Homo sapiens: one gene and its partner. The protein of the gene in region 1 purifies or fractionates together with the protein of each later gene. This does not show direct contact. Each region holds a gene or a part of one and is shown in the gene's direction. Other genes may lie near its edges.

Region 1 (7,817 bases):
CATCATTGTTTCCTTGATGTTTAGCACAGTGTTTGGTGTTCAATAGATACTTAATATATACTTGATGAATGAATGAATGCATGAATAAATAAACAAATGTTTCCTAGAGGCAGGCATTTCTTTTGTGGCCAGTACAGTAGAATGGTAAATCCCTGGAGTCAGGCTGTGTTGGTTTGAACCTAAGCACTACTTTTGAAAAGTTGTGTGATTCTGAAAAATTTACGTGATTTCTCTGCATTTCATTTTGCTCATTGGTAAAATGATAATAATTGTACCTTTCTTCAGCAGCTAATTTGGCTATGGAACAAATCACCCCAAAAGCTAATGACTTGAAACAGCAGCCATTGATGTAGCTCAGGGTTCTGTGGATCTGTCATTTGGAGCATGTTGGTTCTCCTGTCTCAGCTGGGCTCATTCATGCATCTGAGTTCAGCTATTGGGCAATCTGGGGAATGTTTTGTCCATGTGATGTGTCATCTTCTACCAGGCTAGCCTGGGCTTCATCACATGGTATCTGGCAGGGCTCTAAGAGGGAGAGTTGAAACACACAAGGCCTCTTGAAGCTTAGACTCAGAATTGGCACAAGGTCGCTTCTGGCACATTCCATTGGTCAAAGCAAGTTACAAGGCCAGCTCACATTCAAGGATTAGGTAAGTCGATTCCACTCTTGATGAGAAGAGCAGCAAAGCCATATTATAATGTAGTGTGTATACCAGGAAGGGTGGAGACATGGAGGTATTTTTGCAATCTGCCATAGTCTTCCATAGGATTAGCAAGAGGATTAAGAAAATAAAACATCTGAAGGATTTGGAACAGTGTCCACCATGCAGTAATAAACTCAATAAGTAGTAGCCATTATTATTCTGTTAGAGGTTGCCAGGAAAAGTTTTATAGTGGAAAGAAATCTGAGTTTACTCTTGAGAGGTAAGTGGAATTTCTATTTGTAGAGAATGAAGGCCTCTCAAAAAGACACAGCCTAACAATAGGTGCTGCAGTTTAACAGTGGAGCGTGTCCAGAACAGGCTGCCCAGAGGAGCTAGAGCTAAATACTGGGAACCCGGAATGTGAGCCACAGAGTTGGGCTTGACAGCAGAGCAATAGCAAACCATTGGCTTTTGCCTAAATGTTAGCCAATAGCACCATTTCTTATTGTTATTTCAGATTTTGTGTTCTTTAATAAGCTTCTCAGTGCTGATGGTTCTGTGATATCTTTGACCCATCTACTCAAGATTTAAAAAAAAAAAAAAAACTAGAAATCTTGAGTTGTGCCTGGGTTTTGCCACTCCCTAACTTTGAAGGAGCTATGTGATCCCTCTTTACTCAATTTTATTCCATGTGTAAAATGGAATAATTTCTTCCCTTATACATCCATTCCACAATGACAGTAATCTTAAAGGTCAGATCACATTGAAATAGTGTTTACTATCCAAAAGACACAGGGGAGACCAGGCTCTGATGTTTATGCAATTTGGTGATAACTCATAAATCCTAAGCAGAAAAGTCAAGAATAAGGAAAATAAAGATTCAGTGTGGCTGCCCCTATATGTTAAGCAGCAAAACATTTCTAGAACTGCTCTAAAGATAATCTTCAGTTCCTCCAGTCCAGTGAGATGATCCTGAGCAACTGGAACCACTGATAGGCCTGGATCTCTGCCACCTTGAAGGCTGACCAGACCACTAGAAACTAATGGCAGCTCTAGTAGACTGCTCAGTGGCCATAGTTTCAGAATCTTTCCATTGTACATGGTTTAAATGCAAATTCACTAATGAATAATTTTGATAATTCTATCGAAGTATGAAGATGGCTTGCATTAGATGACTACACAATCATATTTAATTTTTTTTTAAAAAAGACAATTCTGGCTCCTCTTATGCCACGTGAAATCCATCCTGCTGAGTGCTCCTGACTAGTCACGTCCTTCCTGCCATTTTAAAAACAATAGTGGCAGAGATGCAAGCTGCTGATAGCGCTCAGCAGGACAGATCAAACACACAGATGCAATTTCTGTATGTTGAACACTGAAGTAGGATAAAATTCAAATACTTAAAATCGCTTAGTAGCTAGCATCTGATTGCTGCAAATTGAATCTTTCATAACGAGATTTATTGTAAATAGTGTCGTCTCATTTGTGAGTTCTGCAATAATTTCAGTCAAAGCCAGTATAAGATACTGGAGGTGTGAGATTTACATGACATATATGCTAGTTTATGCACAGATTATGAAGGGACCCTTTATCAATATTCTTTTTTAATTGCTTATACAATAACCAGAATTGTATTTTTTTCTGAAATTTAAACATTATCAGATAACTTTAGAATGCAGAAGAAAATGTTTTTATCCACTTCAACAGCCATTTTAGAATTGCCAGCTCCCAATCCCACTCTCTTCCCTTTCCACCCTAGTTGTTAAATAAGCATTAAAATTATAGGTAGCTAAAATTTTTGAAATGTGGCTTTTATATTGTTTGGAAGCAATAAAGAGCCTGGTAATCATAATTAGTGGTCAATATATCCTATCCATAAAAAAATAGAAATTTGAAACTAAGTTATTTTGAGGCCTACAAACATACTTTAATTCTTTCAAGATAAAACAGGAAGGTGGCCATAATTTAAGTGATCAATACTATTATTGCCTTTGGGCTTAGTTCCAAATACTTCATGAGAAGTTCATAAAAGATCAACATCAAAATCATAATATAAAAATTGCACTTTACATGTATGAGAGTTTTGTGACACTCCACATACTTGATAGCTTTAATTGCTAGTGACACAGAACTCCAAAAATGTTCTATCTTAGAGTCACATGATCTTCCTGTTCAACACCCAAATAAGGGAAATTTAAACAAAAATCAAAACAATAATAGGGCCAGGAGAATTGTATAATCTGTTGTCTTTCTCTCCTCTGCCCTAAACAACAACAACAGCAAAATTCTTTTCTATGATTTAATCATGTATTGGGGCATTTCCACTATAAACATAAATATGAGAATGCAGCATCTCAACAGGATCTGAATAAAGAAGTCTTACTCTCAGATAATCTAGAACCTTGACAAAAAAAGTGGGGGGGCTTTGTGAGGGTTAAATGCTTCAGTTTGATCCTTCTTAATTCATTTAAGTGTGACTATCCCATGTGCACGTTAATGTTATCATTGTAAATGGGGAATCCCTATTTCTGAACCTCAGAATTTTTAATTTTCCTCCCTTTCCTAAGCAGGTGTCTTTCCATCTCTCACAAATCAAAGAGGATGATGGGGGGTCTGAATAGATGTCTTGCAATGGTGCCCTGATACGTATTTTAATAAGTTTACTAATCAGAGCACATATAAATTAGAATGAATCATAGTCATATAGTTAATAGCAAACAAAGCTCAATTTAGTTCATGTCCAGCTTTCTTCGTGTTCATTTTACTCAAGGGCATACCTTCCTTTTTCTGCTTCTTTTTTTTCTTTCTTTCTTGGACACCTCCAACCCCCATTGACAACCGAAATGCAGGGCTATAAACATAAGGGTGCAATACATCATGAGATAAGTCTGGAGAACATGTCCTCTACCAAAATGCACATGAATCTCTGGTACAGCTAAAATTCCAGAAACATGCTGGGGTTCCTTTTGCATGCTAAGCAGGGTCAAAAATGTGAGCACTATGTGGTTGCCCTTATATATCAGATGAGCTCTAAAGTTGAAAGGTTACATTTGTGAAATTGCGGCTGGGTTTCCTAGCACTTGATTCTAGCTCCTGCAAATCAAAGACTCCTAATTGAAATACAAATCCAACAATATGATAATCTTTCAGTAAAAAAAAAAAAAAAAAAAAAACGTGACTTCTGCACCCTTATCTGTTGAAGAGCTGACAGAGAAGTTCAGAGGCAGTTGTTTAACCAGACAAAATGATAGAGAAAATATGTTTTCAAATAAGATCATAAACCTTGAACAGTGCCTTGTGGGAAGCAAATGTAAAGCAAAGGGCTGTCCTCTATTCTGTCTACCAGCTCTACTCCCCCACCCCGGTGTGTATCCTCAGCCACTCACCTTTTAGGCAAGGGCTAGTGTCTTTCAGGACAGACCCAAACCCCAAATACCAAAACAGAATAAAGTAGTGTCTTAGCATACTTTGAGATCAGACTGTTTCTGCATTTCACAGTGCTGGGGGTGGGGGGGAGGTGTGGGGGGAAGGGAAAAGCAGCATACCAATGTAGTGAAATCTGGAAACAACAGCATATATACAGACACAAAAAAAGTTTGCATATTGCACAGAGCACTTGAAGATCATAAATCTATGCATGAGAAAGATGTAGTGGAAATTTTGGGGGGGATTAGAGTTTATTTTTGTCATCTCTGTGAGACAGCTACTCATTCATCCAGATCACAGCTAAGAAAAAAGCTGGTCACAGAAATTAGCAGTTTCAGCTCAGCAGCGAAGTCGCCAGCCTGTGAAGGCAGAGAGAAATTGACTAATTAGCAATGCGCACTAAAACTTGACGGTTCTTTATAGAGAGAGAGAAGAGAGAGGGAGAGAGAGGGAGAGGGAGGGAGGGGGGGCTCGCTTTTTCCCCTTCTTTCTTCCAAAGATGTTTGAAATCGCAGTCATTTACGCTCGACAATTTTTACAATAGCCTTGAGCCATAATTTTGCGAGTCTCTCCAGCATCCATCCCCCTGTATGGTCTCTCTCTACTGGCCAAGCACGACCGTTTCTCTCCCCAACCGTGGATTTCCTATTACTCTCGTTACGACTCACTGAGCCCCAGGCCCAAGGATAATGATGTGTTGTTTCTTGGTAGCATAATTTGTCACACGTACATTTTTTCTTCTTCTTCTCTTGCAGAAAGCTCTGCTCCCTCTCTCTCTCCCTCTCTCTTTCTCTCTTTTCTCCCTCTCCTACATTTTCTTGCTGTTGCTAATTCATGGTGATCAAATGATGTACGACAAAATAAATTGTAAAGAGTGACTGCCTGGAGTTGGGAACCAGAAGGTGTTTTCCCCCTCCCAAGGAGACAGCAAACCTTTAAAAAGGAAGGACAATTGATTTTTGGGGGGAGCTTAAGTGAGCCTTGACTTTGCAGCTGGTTGAGAACAGGTAAGTTTCTGGCCTTGTGTCTGCCTTGTGTGTATTTTGTTCTGTCTTTTGGATTGTTGGAGGGGGAAGGGCCGGGGAGGGAGTCTTTCAGAGGGGTTGGCGGGGGGGTAGTTGTATGGCAAACGCTCATAAAGAAAAAACTCCTATTGCAAGAAATAAGCAGATGAGGAGGAAAGGCAAGGGAGAAGAACAAGAAGGAAGGGGAATAGGAAAAGATGGGGCGGGGGGAGACAACGAAGCGGAGAGAGCTAGAGAGAGGTATGACCGGGTCCTCTTAAAGGGAGAGAGACTCTGTAAGATGTTTCAGGCAAGCCAGAGCTTTGGGGGCGGGCGTGGGGGTGCTGCCGGCGGAGGGAGCGCGAGGGAGGGTAGGGTCCACCTGGAACGGGATGGTAAAGTGAGTCGAAAGGAGCCCAGTCCGGTATAAATAGGAAGCCGGCGATCCAGGACCGGCGCCAGGCAGGGCAGAGTGAGCCGCAGTGGAAGGGGCAGGTCCGCCGGGATCCCTCCGAGCCGGGCGGCGGCGGCGGCTCTCCCCCGGGCGGGCGGGCCGGCGGGCCGGCGGGCCGGCGCGCGGGCGGGATGCAAGCAGAGGGTCCCTTTCTGCTCAGCCCTGGAAGGTGCAATTACAGGTTAAGGACCTGGCGTATCGATTTCGCCTCGCCTCCCCCACCCTGCCCTCCTCTGCCTAGATGCGGGCGGCTCAGACTTTTTACAGAAGTAGTTCCAGGGCCGGGGAAGTGGGGGTGCCCGAGTGGGGGGCCGCTGGGGGCTCTACCGAGGGGGTCAGAAGGGAGCTGCGGCTGCAGGCGACGATGCTGGGTGGGGCGCAGAGACCCCGCACCCCACTGCTCCCCCGCCCCCCCGCTCGTTCGACAGCCCCCACCCCTCCCCCAACACCTGCCTTCTAACTTGAACTTCTCATAGTTACTGGAGTTAAAGCGACTGCGCCTGGTGCCCGGGAGGGGAAACCGTGCACACGAATCCCTCCCGGCCTCCAGGCCTCCCGGCTCCCTCTCCAAACGCGTCCTCGCAGCCCCACTTCCTCCCCCTGAGTCCTCGGTGCCGCCCCTCGCTGGAAGGGGAGATTGATGCCTGAACTTCCGCGCTTTGAAATGAGCGAGACGGGGGAGAGGGGGCCACCGGGTGGGGGTGGCGGTGGTGGAAGGATTCTCCTGCCAGGTTTAAAGCCATCTCTGGAAAATTAGCCAAACTGAGTGGTGACGGGGAAGCCAACAGTTTGCGAAGCGGGGAAGCGGGCAGGGCCAGGTTGAGGGAAATGAGCTCGAATTGATAAGGACAGCTCCCGCCTCTGCCGATTCCACTGAGCGGGTCCTCACCGCGCTCCGCTGCACTTTCCCGGGAGAAGAAAGGGCTTTATCTCCTCCCTCAGACTATTAGCCTAGGAGTTTCTCGGGGCAGCATGGATAATCGAAGGGGGTCCCAGCTTTTGGAGAGCTAAGATTCGCACACCCCGCACGCTGGTCGGGCCCCTGTTCCTACCCCCTCCCCCAAACTGGGCCAACTGCGAAAAGCAAAGCTTCGGGCACAAGTTGACCTGGAACCTTCGCCGTCGGTCGCCTCTGAGCTTTCAGGGCACCCCCGGCTCCCCACTTCCCGGCCTTTCCCTTCATCTGGCCCGGCATGGACACGAGCCCACGAGGTGCCTCGGCCTCAGCCGCCACTTTGCCGTCGCTGCTGCCACTGCTGTTGCTGCCAACAGCCGAGCTGAGGTGGTTGGTTTTAGGAAAGTGAGGGACGAAGTGTGTGGGAGGTGGCGAGAGGAGCCGCAGGGCGCAGAACCGGCGCCGGGACCCCAGACAGGGCCCTTCTGGTGGCGCTCACGGATCCAGCGTCTTCGGACTTTCCTCCTAGGGTCGGGGTCCGGAGCGCGCCAGGAGGGAGTCAAGCTGAGCCTTGATTCTTGTTCTTCGCCCTCCCCTCCCCTCCACACCCTTCCCCACCCCGACCACACCCCACCCGCTCCACCACCCTGCTCCCCTCCCTCCCATCCCCCACCCCTGTCTGCCAGGTTGGAGGAGGGTTTAAAGCCAGGTGCACCGAGTCAGCTCGCCATGTCCAGATCCGGGGACAGGACCTCCACCTTCGACCCCAGCCACAGCGACAACCTGCTGCACGGCCTCAACCTGCTGTGGAGGAAGCAGCTGTTTTGCGACGTGACCCTGACGGCCCAGGGCCAGCAGTTCCATTGCCACAAGGCCGTGCTGGCCTCCTGCTCGCAGTACTTCCGATCGCTCTTCTCCAGCCACCCCCCTCTCGGGGGAGGGGTCGGCGGCCAGGACGGCCTGGGGGCCCCCAAGGACCAGCAGCAGCCGCCGCAGCAGCAGCCGTCACAGCAGCAGCAGCCGCCGCCGCAGGAGGAGCCCGGGACTCCTTCTTCCTCCCCCGACGACAAGCTGCTGACCAGCCCCCGGGCCATCAACAACCTGGTGCTGCAGGGCTGCTCGTCCATCGGGCTGCGCCTGGTGCTCGAGTACCTCTACACGGCCAACGTGACCCTGTCCCTGGACACGGTGGAGGAGGTGCTGTCGGTCAGCAAGATCCTGCACATCCCCCAGGTCACCAAGCTCTGCGTGCAGTTCCTCAACGACCAGATCTCGGTGCAGAACTACAAGCAGGTGTGCAAGATCGCCGCGCTGCACGGCCTGGAGGAGACCAAGAAGCTGGCCAACAAGTACCTGGTGGAGGATGTGCTGCTGCTCAACTTCGAGGAGATGCG
Region 2 (7,273 bases), on another chromosome or scaffold:
ACGCCTGTAATCCCAGCACTTTGGGAGGCTGAGGTGGGTGGATCATTTGAGGTCAGGAGCTTGAGACCAGCCTGGCCAACGTGGTGAAACCCCGTCTCTACTAAAAATACAAAAATTAGCCGGGCATGGTGGCACGCACCTGAAATCCCAGCTACTCAGGAGGCTGAGGCAGGAGAATCACTTGAACCTGGGAGGCAGAGGTCGCAGTGAGCCAGGATCACGCCACTGCACTCCAAACTGGGTGACAGAGCGAGACTCTATCTCAAAAAAAAAAAATAGGCCTAGTGGTGTGGTTTCTGTGGGTGGTGGCTCTATCCAGACTGCCCACCCAGGCTTAGATTCTAACTCCTCCACCACTTAGCCCTGGTTGGCATCCTCACCCTTCAAAATTCAGAAACACTTGGGAAGGAAAATTATGAGCTTTTCACACTTCTAAGTAGTAGTAGTAAATCTGTAACTTACTAAATCTGGCGACTTATTGGGGTCTGGCACAATGACTGTAACTTTACATCTATTGGCCCTATGAAGAAGTGTTCTTCCCCCCTCTTTTAAAATACAAATATTTTTAAAATTTTCAAGCTTACATAAAAGCTTAAAGTACAACCCTTAACCTAGATACGCCAAATCACAATTTGCCAATTGTGCTTTTACACAAACACACACTTTTTTGGCCCAATTATTTAAAAGTAAGTTACAGATATGTTGATTGACGTTTGACCCCTAAATTCTTCAACATGTATCCCCTAATAAGGGCGTTCTACTACATAGCCATAATACATTATATGTAATAAGCAAGAAGTCAGTATTACCCAATGTAATAGTTATTCAAAATTTTCTGCCAGGTGCAATGGGTCATGTCTATAACCCCAGCACTTTGGGAAGCAAAGGCAGACAGATTGCTTGAGCCCAGGAGTTCAAGGCCAGCCTGGGCAACATAGTGAAACCCCATCTCTACAAAAACTACAAAATTTAGCATGGTGTGGTAGCGTGCACCTGTAGTCCCAGCTACTTGGGAAAATCACCTGAGCCTGGGGATGTCAAGGCTGCAGTGAACCATGATCGCGCCACTGCACTCCAGCCTGGGCGACAGAGTGAGACCCTGTCTCAAGAAAAAAAAAATTCTAATTGCCCAAAAATACCTTATATAGTTTCTGGTTTTTAAAATCAGATCCAGTCAAGATGTACATATTGCATCCTATTATATCTCTTTTATCAACTCATTTAATCTAAATAGAGCCCCTTGGCATGGTAGCTCATGTCTGTAATCCCAACATTTTGGGAGGCTGAGGTGGGCAGATCACTTGAGGTCAGGAGTTCGAGACCAGCCTGGCCAACATGGTGATACCCCATCTCAAGTAAAAATACAAAAATTAGCCGGACATGGTGGTGTGTGCCTATACTCCCAGCTACTCAGGAGGCTGAGGCAAGAGAATTGCTTGAACTCAGGAGGTGGAGGTTGCAGTGAGCCGAGATTGTGCCACTGCACTCCAGCCTGGGCAACAGAGTGTGACTCTATCTCAAATAAATAAATAAATAAATAAATAGAGCTTCTCCACCTATTTAAATATGTTTGATTGGTTTATCAATGATTAGATTGGGGTTAGATTTAAGTTTTTGGCAATGTGTGTACTTACTGCATGTCAGGAGGATATGATGTCAGGGTCTTACTATCCATGAATGCTAAATTTGATTATTAAGGTCATGGCAACCTGATCTCTCTATCGTAAAGGTAAATTTTTCTCTCTTACAATTAATAAGTAATCTGTGAAGTGATTCTCTGAGTCTGTTATAATTATGTGTTCCTGATAACCTTTCACACCACATCCTTGGATGATCCTTGCTTGAATTACAACACTGAGGGTTGCAAATTGGTAATTTTCTAATTCTGCCATTCCTTCTGTGTTTATTAGTGTTCTTTTTTATAGAATTAATTTTTCCTGGCCGGGTGCGGTGGCTCACGCCTGTAATCCCAGCACTTTGGGAGGCCGAGGCGGGCGGATCACGAGGTCAGGAGATCGAGACCATCCTGGCTAACAAGGTGAAACCCTGTCTCCACTAAAAATACAAAAAATTAGCCGAGCGAGGTGGCGGGCGCCTGTAGTCTCAGCTACTCGGGAGGCTGAGGCAGGAGAATGGCGTGAACCCTGGGAGGCGGAGGTTGCAGTGAGCCGAAATCACACCACTGCACTCCAGCCTGGGCGACAGTGAGACTCCGTCTCAAAAAAAAAAAAAAAGAATTAATTTTTCCTGTCTCTATCTTTCTCACTCCCTTCTTCTCACCCTCTTTTTTCTTTTGGGAATAACATTATGGACTCTTGTTTTTTGTTTGTTTGTTTTTGAGATGGAGTCTCACTCTGTTGCCCTGGCTGGTGTGCAGTGGCACGATCTTGGCTCACTGCAACCTCCACTTCCCAGATTCAAGCGATTCTCCTGCCTCAGCCTCCCAAGTAGCTGGAATAACAGGCGCACGCCACCCCGCCCAGCTATTTTTTGTATTTTTAGTAGAGATGGGGTTTTGCCATGTTAGCCAGGCTGGTCTTGAACTCCAGACCTCAGGTGATCCGCCCGCCTCGGCCTCCCAAAGTGCTGAGATTACAGGCATGAACTACCGCACCCAGCCTGGACTCTTGTTTTGTTGTTGTTGTTTTTTAATTCACTGGGCTATATGAACTCACCTTGAACTTTTCCTGTGAAAGTCCAGGAATCATCAGTTTCTCCAGGAAGCCCTGGTTTCTTTTAGAAGAGATGATGACATTCAGAAACAAAGATCCAGGGCTAGGTGTGTTTATTGCTACTGGGTGTCATTTCTAGGCTCTGTGAGTGAGCAGAGCTAGGAAATGATGGATAGGTGATTGATAGATAGATGATAGATGGACAATTTTCATTACTCAGTACATTTATTGTTACAACAGCTAGTCCCCACTGACAGGATTGCATGGTAAGTCATTTCATTATGGAAGTAATGCTCATTATGGAAGTGGACAGTAATGTAGGAAAAAAGGAAATTGCACAGAAAAGAGCTCTTGCCTACTCCAGGTCGCCATGAGTATACAGACTGTTGGCTAGGACCTCTGTGGCTGGGTTCAGCTTCCTGCCGAAGACGTCTAAAGGACTGGTTCTCTGAAGGGTGTCCAAACCAGAACTTCCCAGAGGCCATGACTCTGAGGTCAAGAATCCACATGAAGCCCTGGGCAAGGGATTCACGCTCTTTGGGTCTGCTTTAGGTTGTCTTTGAAACAAAGACAATGTAATCGGTCCTGCCTGGGTCCCAGAGTTGTAAGGATCAATATATTTATCAATATGTTTATTTTTAAACATTGCTAGTTGTGTCTCTTCACATTTATTACCAAATTCCTTCTCTTCTCATTGTTTTAAAACCACAGAGGGAAATGTCATTGCTTTATAATCTAGTTTAATACATTGCGCTAAGATGTCTTATTCAAATACTCTTTCAGGTTATCAGTCATCAGTGCTTCCAGATTAAAATTTTAATTATTTAAATCTTTTTTGAAAAATACTATTGGGATTTGGATTAGGATAGCATAACAACTATAATTAATTTTGAGGGGGGGGGGGTGCTTTGGGATAAGGCCTGGCTCTGTCACCCAAACCAGAGTGCAGTGGCACAGTCTTGGCTCACTGCAACCTCCACCTACTGGGACAAAACCAATTATTAAAATAGAAGAAGTTCCTATAGCTATTATCACTTGGGAAATTACACAGTTTTTAGCCCTGGCCAACAGCTGGGGACAAATCTAAAATGTATATTGCTTATTATATCACAGTATCACACAACCCCTCCCCTGAGTGCAAGGCGGTGACTATGCAGACGTGAGACATGCAGTTGCTCTCAGCTCACAAACTAGGCAGTGGTTTCCAAAAAAAATTGTTTTGTCAGCCACAGTATGAAGATACCATGATCCAGTTCATAGACACACAACTGAAACAAAAGTTTCACAACAATATATAATTGGTTACAACCCACTTAACTGTATTGATGTCATGACTTGCCAATAGGTCACAACCTTCATTTTTTTTCCTGTTTATGGAGGTAAAACTTAAGTATGGTAAAATTTACACTTTTTTTTTAATTGAGACAGGGGTCTTACTATGTTTTCCAGGCTGGTCTTGAACTCCTGGGCTCAAGTGACCCTCCTGCCTCGGCCTCTCAAAGTACTGGGATTATAGGCATGAACCACCACAGCTGGCCACAATTCACCCTTTTAGATGTGTATGGTTACATGAATTTTGACAGTCTTTATAAACACATTTGACCACCACCACATCATATTACTTTTGTGCCAACCTAATAGAATATTCCCATCACTCCAAAATATGCCTTGTGTTTCTTTGTAACCAGTCTTTTCCCTCCAACCCAGCCCCAAGAATTCACTTAATCTGATTTCTGTCTTTATAGTTTTGCCTTTGCCAGAACGTTATACAGATAGAGTCATGTACCATGTAACCTTCTGAGGCTGGCTTCTTTCACTTGACGTAATGCTTTTGAAATTCATGTATGTGGTAATGTCTTTTAGTAGTTCCTATATATTGCTGAGTCATATTCTATTGTATGGATGTACTGCAATTTATCTGTTTACAATTAGTTGTTTCTGAGTTTGGGCAATTATGAATAAGCTGCCATAAACATTCACATATGAGTCTTTGCATGGACATATGTCTCCATTTCTCCGGCATAAATACCTAGGAGTAGGGTCATTGGGTCACGTGATAATTGTATGCTGTATTAGTCCATTCTCACACTGCTAATAACAACATACCCCAGACTGGCTAATTTACAAAGGAAAGAGGTTTAATTGACTCACGGTTCCACAGGACTAGGGAGGCCTCAGGAAACTTAAAATAATGGTGGAAGGGGAAGCAAACATGTCTTTCTTCACATGGCAGCAGCAAGGAGAAGTGCCAAGCGAAGGGGGAAACCCCTTATAAAACCATCAGATCTCTTAAGAACTCACTATCACAAGAACAGCATGAGGAAAACCGCCCCAATGATTCAATCATCTCCACCTAGTCCTGCCCTTGACACATGGGGATTATTACAATTCAAGGTGAGATTTGGGTGGGGACACAGAGCCAAACCATACCATATGTCAAACTATTTTCAACAGCGGTTACCATTTGTCAGCAGTGTATGAGGTTTCCATTGTTCTATGTACTCACCTTCAATTGGCATTGTCAGTTTTTATATGAGCCACTAATAGGTATATAGTAGCATATAATTGTGGTTTCAATTTTCATACTCTCATGACTGATGATATTGACCATCTTTTCATGTGATTGTCAGTCATCTGCATATCTTCTTTGCTGGAGTATTTGTTAGATCTTTTGTCTAGTTGTTTTGTTTTTGTTTTTGTTTAAGTAGAGATAGGGTTTCACCATGTCGGCCAGGCTGTTCTTGAACTCCTGGCCTCAAGTGATCTGCCCGCCTCAGCCTCCCAAAGTGCTGGGATTACAGGCATGTGCCACTGCACCCAGCTTTATGTGTTTTTTAATTGGGTTATTTTCTTACTGAGTTTTGAGAGTTCTTTATATATTCTGGTTAACAATCCTTTATCAGATAGGTGTTTTGCAAATATTTTCTCCATCTGTGTCTTATTCTTTCATTTTCTTAACAGTGTCTTTTGAAGAGCAGAAGTTTTTTACGTGGATGAAGTCTAGTTTATTGATGTTTTTAATGGTTTGTCCCTTTTAGGTCCTATCCAAGAAATCTTTGCCTAATCCACAGTTGCAAAGATTTTCTCCTAGAAGTTGTGTAGTTTTAGATTTTATATTTAGGTCTATGATATGTTCTGAGTTTATTTTTCATAAACAGCATAAGAGATGGACCAAGGTTCTTTTTTTCCCCATATGGATGTCCACTGATCTGCATTTTGAGATAGCCAGGGAAGAGGGCCATGTGCAAAGGAGATCGCTGCAGGTGGAATGCTGGGTGCTGCCAGAGGGGGTTGTGCAAGGCACCAGGAAGCCCTGAGAGGAGAGCTGTTAACCTAGTGGAGATCTGGGGACAGTAGTACAGAGGTGATGACTCATAGGCTGGGCCTGAAAGGTAGACAGCAGAGAGGGTAGAGAAGGTAGACAGGGGTGGTCTAGGGACAGCAAAGGCAGGGCAGGTGTCAGCATGAAGGAGACTGACTCAGTGGCGTCTGGCGTGCGTGGAGGGCAGGGTTAGACATGAGAGGGAAAGAGGAAGGTGGTTGGGCAGGGACGGTACTTCAGGAAGGTCAGTCTGCAGACCAGAAAGGAAGGTGGACAGAAGGCAGGGAGCCGAGTGAGGATGTAGGGGTGCAGGGGGCAGGGATGAGGCCTGAGCTCTGGGAGTAGCTATAGGGATGGGTTCAAGGAGATAGTCAAGACAAACTGTAGGGCTGAAGAGTCGGGGCTGCTTCCCTCAGGCAGTTGGGTGGCTCAGAAGAGTTCACAGCAGAGTTAGGGGCAGAGGAAGGCACAGGTGAGGCTTCTGGTACCTGTGTTACTGGTGGAGGGTCTTGACTAGGAATTTTCCAGGTCCTTGGCGTTTTGAACAAAGTAGCAGAGGGGCAGACGTGGTAATCCCCACACTTTGGGAGGCCTGGATGGGCAGATCACTTGAGGTCAGTCCAAGACCGGCCTGGCCAACGTGGTGAAACCCGTCTCTACTAAAAAAAAAAAAAGTAAAAATAAAAAGAGTAGCAGGGGAATGAAATGCAGGAATGAAGCAGTGAAAGCAGGAATTAAAGTGAGAAAGCACTCCTCAGGGTGGGAGTGGGCCGGAGCAAGGAACTCAAAGGCCCAGTTACAAAGTTCTCTGGGCTTTAGGTACCCCATTTGAGGTTCTTATCAGCTACTCCTTATCTGGACGAAGGATTTAGTCTGTGGCTAATTAAAGGCTGAGGTGAATGGGCACCCTATGCAGATAAAGGGATGGTCCCAATCCAAGGCCCCCCTCCCTTTCCACCTGAGACATGGTGGAGTGGGAGGGTTGCAAAGAGGAGCGTTTGATCCTTTGTCACCCAGCTGGGGCGATGGCGTTTTTCCTCTTGGTTCAGCTTTAGGAATTTGGTGTTAATTGGTCTTAGGGTCCCTGCCCCCAGACCCAGGATTTTCCTTCTGATCCAGCTTTGGGAAGTCAACAGAATTGGCCTCAGATTTTTTGCCCCAGACCTTGGTGTTTTCTCTTTTATGAAGTTAGCACAAATTGGCCTTAAGTTCCTTGTCTCCAAACCTTGTTCTCCTGCCTCACTTGCAGAATATCCAAGTGGAGGTGGCCAGGAGGCAT

What was found.
Region 2: the proteins of KLHL14 (region 1) and KCTD21 purify together in Homo sapiens (affinity purification with mass spectrometry; 3 studies listed by BioGRID and IntAct, with this or other methods). This does not show direct contact.

Annotation. Positions count from the first base shown.
Region 1 is NC_000018.10:32,769,927-32,777,743, reverse strand, and holds the start of KLHL14 (kelch-like protein 14), read left to right. Parts: upstream 1-4,720; 5' UTR 4,721-5,077; intron 5,078-5,456; exon of another isoform or gene 5,457-7,068; intron 7,069-7,109; 5' UTR 7,110-7,152; coding exon 7,153-7,817.
Region 2 is NC_000011.10:78,178,601-78,185,873, reverse strand, and holds part of KCTD21 (BTB/POZ domain-containing protein KCTD21), read left to right. Parts: intron 1-7,273. UniProt on the Homo sapiens protein: Probable substrate-specific adapter of a BCR (BTB-CUL3-RBX1) E3 ubiquitin-protein ligase complex mediating the ubiquitination and subsequent proteasomal degradation of target proteins. Promotes the ubiquitination of HDAC1.